2 linked regions of the Homo sapiens genome follow. The protein of the gene in region 2 purifies or fractionates together with the protein of the main gene of each other region. This does not show direct contact. Each region holds a gene or a part of one and is shown on either strand. Other genes may lie near its edges. The genes, in order: UBE2V2 and MSRB2.

Region 1 (3,823 bases), on a different chromosome or scaffold from region 2:
ACTTACCATCCCACTGGAATTATTTATTCCGTTCATATTAATTTTTGTTACAAATCTAACTGACGGAGGAGCTTCTGGGTATTTAGGTCCACATTCTACTTTCAGGCTATATATTCTGTTTTCATAATTTGTCTGGAAGGCAAAAAACAAAAAGATAATCAAAATAACAATACCTAAAATATTAATGTCTAAGTGCTAAAAAAAAAAAAGGGAAAGTACAATATGAATGTACGTAAGACAGTGTTTATGATTAAGAATTTATTTTTCTACATTCAAATTTATTTCACCTATATGGTGAGAAAAAATGCAATAAGCATACTTAAAAATTGAGATTTTACAAAATTAATTCCATGAGATTTTACAAAATTAATTCTACAAAGTATTATCAATATGATCCCAAGTTGCTTTTGTGATAAAAATGATGCCTGTAACAAATTAGAACGAAGAAGGAAAAACGAAAAAGCAAACCACTTAAATTTAGATTTTGCTAAAAAGTTTACATTGTAGAGGGAGGGGCTACTTGAGACTTGTGTTAAACATATATGAAGGTTTCTGTTTTACAGAACAGTTCTGCTTATTCCTATTGTCCCAGAATTGACTATTAACAGTGCCTCCTTTCATTCTCAAAAGGGTCTTGTTGGATAACAAATTATATGATTATCCTACTAAATATGGCAATCAATAACTTCTAGCAAAAGAGAAAACCCCATATTATACTATTTTGCAGCAATAAAACATAATTATTTTATGTCCCCTGTTAGTTATACTTACGTTGCCACTTCATTAATTTTGAGGTTCATTAAATCCCATTATCTGAATTCAGAGATACAATGGCAAACTTTATGTTTACACATCATTTTCAAATAGGTATCAAACTTAAAGCTTCTAGATTATCCAGGGCTTATTTTCATGCCTATAAATTAACTCTTCTTTCTGCTATGGCTTTTGTTCACTCTGTTAACTTATTAGTGTACCATTAAAACAGCAAAGTAAAAAATAAATGAATCCTCACCTTGACTCAAGAGATTAAAAAGAAAAAAAAATTGTTTTAAAGAGAATTATAATTATTGAAACTTTAAATTTTCTAAATTATAATTAAAATAACATAAAAATATATACATAAATAAATGAAAGTGAAAAATTTAATATCTGCTGGCTGCTGTATAAGACCAGAGAGGGAGGAAGCTAACCAACCATCTACAGATCTCACCTACTCAAACTGATCCCATCCCCATAAACAAGAGCTATCCAAATGGAGGTCAGATTTGCAGTATTAAACTACTCTAATGTAAAACCTATGCAACAATGTTATATGTATGTTATTAAATATTTCAATACTTTAAGAAAAAAAGAGCTATATAAAACTCATCTGAGATTAATAGCAAGCAAATATTAATAATATCCCCAGCACTTTCAATATATAAAAATGACTAAAATCAGATAGATCTCATGATTATCTTGGCTGTGATTCTCCAATCTGGATGCATATCAGACTCCCCTATGATACAGCAATTCTATTCCTAGGCATTTACCCAAGCGAAATGGAAACAAACACATGTTCACAAAAAGACTTCTACAAGAATGCCCATAGCAGCTTTATTTGTAAAAGCAAGAAAGTAGATTAAATCCAAATGTCCATAAAAAGAAGTGATAAACACATTGTGGTATATCCATACAGTAAAATACTATTCAACAATAAAAAGAAACACACTCCTACTACATGAGATAACACAACTGAATTGCTCAGACTTCATGCTGAGTAAAGAACCGTAAGTGTACACACTACATGACCCTACTTACCAAAGCTCTACAACACGCAAATCTCTCAGGTGTGGGAAAGCGCAAAGGGAGCTTTCTGGAATGACAGGAATGTTCTGTATCTCAGTAGGGGTAACAAGCTACATTTGTCAAACTCATGGCACATCTGTGCATTTCACTACATGTAAATTCTACCTCAATTCCTTTTGTTTAAAAAAAAAAAAAAAAAAACCCAAAGCTCTTTTCTGAAAGATTTTATGTAAACAAAAAAAAATTTAATCCCAAAGCTAGCCTATTAATCTAATCCAATTCTTACAGTAAATATCACCCTAACTTCTGACACCTTTGATTTTATCCCCTCTAAATTTTAAATTAACAGGCTGGGTGTGGTGGCTCATGCCTGTAATCCCAGCCCTTTGGGAGGCCAAAGGCGGGCAGACTGCCTGAGGTCAGGAGTTCGAGACCAGCCTGGCCAACATGGTGAAACCCCGTCTCTATTAAAAATACAAAAATTGGTAGCACACGCCTGTAATCCCAGCTAGTCGGGAGGCTGAGGCAGGAGAATCACCTGAACTCGGGAGGTGGCAACTGCAGTGAGCTGAGATCACGCCACTGCACTCCAGCCTGGGTGGCAAAGCAAGACTGTCTCAAAAAAAAAAAAAATTTTAATTAACAGTCAAGTTTTTCTGTTATCTAATAAAAAGCAAGAGCAAAAAAAAGAGGAGAAAAACAAACTAATATTTACTAAGTCAAGTACTCAGGTATTCTCCTATTATCTAATCATTATTTCACTTAATTCTCACACTGTTTCTATTTTAAAGATGGGGACAGTACCTTCATTAAATATGAGAAAACTTGAAAAAGTACTAAACTCTAGTGACAACAAATATTGCTTCAGAAAACTGAACACAAAAACATAGAAAAACAAAACTGCTAATCATATAAATCCAAATAAATACTAGAACAACATAAAAAATGAGGGATCTGGCTGGACATGGTGGCTCACACCTGTAATCCTAACACTTTGGGAGGCCGAAGGGAGTGGATCACCTGAGGTTGGGAGTTCGAGACCAGCTTGACCAACATGGAGAAACCCCATCTCTACTAAAAATACAAAATTAGCCGGGCATGGTGTCGCATGCCTGTAATCCCAGCTACTCAGGAGCCTGAGGCAGGAGAATCACTTGAACCTGGGAGGCAGAGGTTGCGGTGAGCCCGAGATAGTGTCACTGAACTCCAGCCTGGGCAACAAGAGCAAAGCTCCATCTCAAAAAAAAAAAAAAAGAGGGACCTTAGTCAATAAAGTACAAAAAATAAAAAACAACTGGCCAGGCACAGTGGTTCACGCCTATAATCCTAGCACTTTGGGAGGCCACGGCAGGTGGGCCATTTGAGCCCAGGAGTTTGAGACCCGTCTGGGCAACACAGTGAGACCCCCATCTCTACACACACACACACACAAATTAGCCAGGTATGGTGGTGTACCCCTATAGTCCCAGCTACTCAGAAGGCTAAGGTGGGAGGATTGTTTGAGCCCAGGGGGTCCAGGCTGTGAGGTGTGATCGGGCCACTACACTCCAGCCTGGTTGACAGAGTGAGACTATCTCAAAATAAAATAAAATAAAAATAAAAAACAACGAACCATGTAACATGTTAAAAGTCTTCCTCCTCTCAACCGGGCACGGCGGCTCACGCCTGTAATCCTAGCACTTTGCGAAGGCCGAGGTGGGCGGATCATCTGAGGTCGGGAGTCTGAGACCAGCCTGAGCAACATGGAGAAACCCTGTCCCCACTAAAAATACAAAATTAGGCCAGACGCGGTGGCTCACGCCTGTAATCCCAGCACTTTGGGAGGCCGAGGCGGGTGGATCACAAGGTCAGGAGATCGAGACCATCCCGGCTAACATGGTGAAACCCCATCTCTACTAAAAATACAAAAAATCAGCAGGGCGTGGTGACAGGCCCCTGTAGTCCCACTACTCGGGAGGCTAAGGCAGGAGAATGGTATGAACGCGGGAGGCAGAGCTTGCAGTGAGCCGAGATGGCGCCACTGCACTCCAGCCTG
Region 2 (3,823 bases):
AGTGTGAGTGTGTGAGTGTACGTTTGCGCGTGTGTGTCTCAGTGTTGGGGAGAGAGATGGGGAAGAGCACATGAATCTAGAAAGGAACTGCATCTCTATGAGATTTTTCCTAATAGCCCATAATCCCAGTTTAATTGTGAGGAGAAACATCAAACAATCCCAGACTGAGGGACATTCTACAAGGAACCTGACCAGTCCTCCCCAAAACTGTAAAGGTCATGAAAGACAGAGACAGTTTTGACAAATGTACTATGATGATGTCAGAAGATTACCAGGGGGATCCGGATGAGGGGTCTTGAGAACTCTGTACTGTCTTTATAACTTGTCTATAAATCTAAAATTATTCCAAAATAAAAAAGCTTATTTAAAAAACTATCTTCTCCATGGCTACCCGTGTACCATCAAGCACTACTGGAGAAAATCCCCCACCTGGGGAGAGGGTTGTCCTTATAAACTCAAAGTTACTCATCTCACTGGGGTTTCAGTGAACCATGGAACCATCTTTCCCCAGTCAGCTCTCTTCCCATTTCTCTGCAATGAGTGTTTTAAACCTTTTCCACTCTCAGGAATGTAAACTAGTACAACCACTATGGAAAACAGTGTGGAGATTCTTTAAAGAACTAAAAGTAGAATACCATTTAATCCAGCAATCCCACTACTGGGTATCTACCCAGAGGCAAAGAAGTCATTACATGAAAAAGATACCTGCACACACGTTTATAGTAGCACAATTTGCAATTGCAAAAATATGGAGCCAACACAAATGCCCATCAATCAACTAGTGGATAAAGAAATGATGGTATATATATAGACTATGGAATACTACTCAGCCATAAAAAGGAACAAAATAATGGCATTCACAGCAACTTGGATGGAATTGGAGACTATTATTCTAAGTGAAGTAAGTCAGGAATGAAAAACCAAACATCGTATGTTCTCATTCATAAGTGGGAGCTGAGCTATGAGGATGCAAAGGCATAAGAATGATACAATAGACTTTGGGGACTCAGAGAAGAAAGGGTGTGAGGGGGATGAGGAATAAAAGACTACACATTGGGTACCATGTACACTGCTCGGGTGATGAGTACACCAAAATCTGATAAATCACCATTAAAGAAAGAACTTATTCATGTAACAAAACACCTGTTCGCCCAAAAGCTATTGAAATTAAACAAAACAAAACAAAACAAAACAAAAAACCTTTTCCACTCTCCTCAAACCATGGTATCTATCTACTACGTCTCCCCTTCCTCTCAACAGATTTCACTTTTGCAAAATCAAAAGCCACAAACCTTCTGGCTACCAAACCATCACACTTACTAATACCTACATCTACCCTTTTTCCATCTTGTCACAGTGGAACGAGTGACTGCCTCTGATATGGTTTGGCTCTGTGTCCCTACCCAAATCTCATGTGACATTGTAATCCTCAGTGTTGGAGGTGGGGCCTGGTGGGAGGTGATTAAATCATGGGGACATATTTCCCCTTTGGTGCTGTTCTCGTGATAGTGAGTTATCGAGAGATCTGGTTGTTTAAAAGTTCACCTCCCCCTCTCTCTCTTCCTCCTGCTCTGACCATGTAAGATGTGCTTGCTTATGTGCTTGCTTCCTCTTCACCTTACATCATGATTGTAAGTTTCCCGAGGCCTCCCCAGCCATGCTTCCTGTACAGCCTGTGGAACCGTAAGCCAATTAAACCTCTTTCCTTCCTAAATTACCCAGTCTCTGGTATTTCTTTATAGCACTGTGAAAACAAACTAATACAAGCCTCTTCCTGTCTGTTTTTTTGCCACTTCTGTTCAGGATCCTGTCTCTTCTTGGCCACCTCAAATGATTTAAAAAGAGAATGCTTTAGCCAGAGGCACTAAAAAGAGCAAGAACAGGCTTTGCTAGAAAGAGTGTATGTCCTGGGTTCCTCCTCCCAGATCTAAACTCTGGTCCCGTGGGGGAATTTGTGAGACCTAATCTCTGGCTATCATTGACATTTGTCAAGGAAAGGACTAAACGCATCATGATAAAACACCCTCCTCTTAGCTTTGGCAAAGATCTTGCATTATTCCTGTAGATAGGTAAGAGGACCAACTTCAGGTACAAAGGTTGGAATTTACAGTCTGTGAAGCTGGCTTTATCTTCCTGTCTCCTTTCAGGCAGGAAGTGGAATGGGCTTAGAAAAAAACCCTATTGTCTCCTGGAAGCACTGTCCTTAGTGTGACTCAACAGGCAGTACACTATAGTAGCTGACACTGGAAAGTGGGAATTAGAGAAGAGCTAAAAGTCAGTGGGACTCTCATGAATTGAGCTTTAAAACATGTACTTCTTTCGCTTTGAACCTAAGGCTTGAGTTGGTCTGGGTTCCCAGCTCCCTCTCCCACACCTCTATATTTTGTTACACGTATTAGAGAGTGACTATCTGTTCTTCAGACACCACCTTCTCCCTCTGCCCTAATTTTTTTAAGAGACCGAGTCTCACTGTGTTGCCCAGAATGGAGCACAATGGCTATTCATACGCATGATCAAAGTACACTACAGCCTTGAATGCCTGGACTCAAGCGATTTTCCTTCCTCAGCCTCCCAAGTAGCTGAGACTACAGGTGCGTGACACAGTGCCACGCCATAATATTTTCTTTTTAAGTTTAAAATATATAACTAGTATTTAAATTGCTAACCAAAAGAATTAAGCCTTCATCTAAGTACAATATGGAAAGGACATTTTTAATGGTTCTTTTAATCCTTATCAATGTGGACCTTTTACACTATTTTTAATGTGTGCGAAAACTTTAGTGGGTAGGCAATAATGTTTAGACTAGTTCTTGTTCAAGCACCAATTATGCAACATTTAGCTGCAGAATTTGCCAGCCTAGAAGGCTCAGTCAAGGGCAGACAGACTTTGCTTTGATAGCAAAATGATGAACGCTCAGTTGGGTACACCCAGGTCAGGTTATATGTGGGCTGTATCACTTTAAGAGGTTTCTTTGACCTGGATGTTATGAGCTGAATTGTGACACTCCCTGCCCGCCAACTTCCAAATTCATATGTTGAAGTCCTAATCCCCAGTACTTTAAAATGTGACTGCATTTAGAGACAGGGCCTTTAAAGAGGCAATCATGTCAAAATGAGGCCATTAAGAGGGGGCCCTGGTCCAATAAGACTGGTGTCCTCATAAGAGGAAGGGACAGCAGAGAAAAGGCCGCCTGGGGACACAGCAAGAAGGCAGCTATCCCCAAGTTAAGGAAAGAGGTCTCAGGACAAATCTCAGGACAAGTCTTGGCCTTGGACTTCCAGCCTCCAGAACCGTATGAAAATGAATTCCATCGTTTAAGCTGCCCAGCCTGTGATATTTTGTTATGGGATCCCTAGCAAATGAACACACTGGGGCTTTAGAAAACAACCAAAGTTTAAATAAAAATTACAGTATGAGTAAATTCTGAGCAGTTTTATCAAACAGCAATTTAGGCACGTGTAAATTAGATACACGACAAGGTCTCTCACTTGGGAATGAGTCAAGTCTTCTGGCTACCGTGGCTAGAGAGAGGTTTCAACACTGGCTGTGTCCTTTTCTGTGTGTGTGCAGGTATTTTCTGTCCTCTGCACCACGTGCTCATCCTTTGGGGGCTACACATTTTCCAGATTCCCTCTACATTCTCTTGCTATCTTCACTATGAAAACATTTATCGGTTGCTGCTATTGCATGAGATAACTACACAGCTTTACTTTGAATTATGCCTTAATAAACTCAAATTCCTTGGAGTTCCCTTCTCTCTGTGTGCTGTGATTTGCACAGGCCATATATTTTGTTGGTCAGAAGTTCTACGGGGTGGGCCTC

Evidence for each region.
Region 1: the proteins of MSRB2 (region 2) and UBE2V2 purify together in Homo sapiens (co-immunoprecipitation; one large-scale study listed by IntAct). This does not show direct contact.

Annotation. Positions count from the first base shown.
Region 1 is NC_000008.11:48,046,162-48,049,984, reverse strand, and holds part of UBE2V2 (ubiquitin-conjugating enzyme E2 variant 2), read right to left. Parts: intron 133-3,823; coding exon 7-132; intron 1-6. UniProt on the Homo sapiens protein: Has no ubiquitin ligase activity on its own. The UBE2V2/UBE2N heterodimer catalyzes the synthesis of non-canonical poly-ubiquitin chains that are linked through 'Lys-63'. This type of poly-ubiquitination does not lead to protein degradation by the proteasome.
Region 2 is NC_000010.11:23,098,362-23,102,184, reverse strand, and holds part of MSRB2 (methionine-R-sulfoxide reductase B2, mitochondrial precursor), read right to left. Parts: intron 1-3,823. UniProt on the Homo sapiens protein: Methionine-sulfoxide reductase that specifically reduces methionine (R)-sulfoxide back to methionine.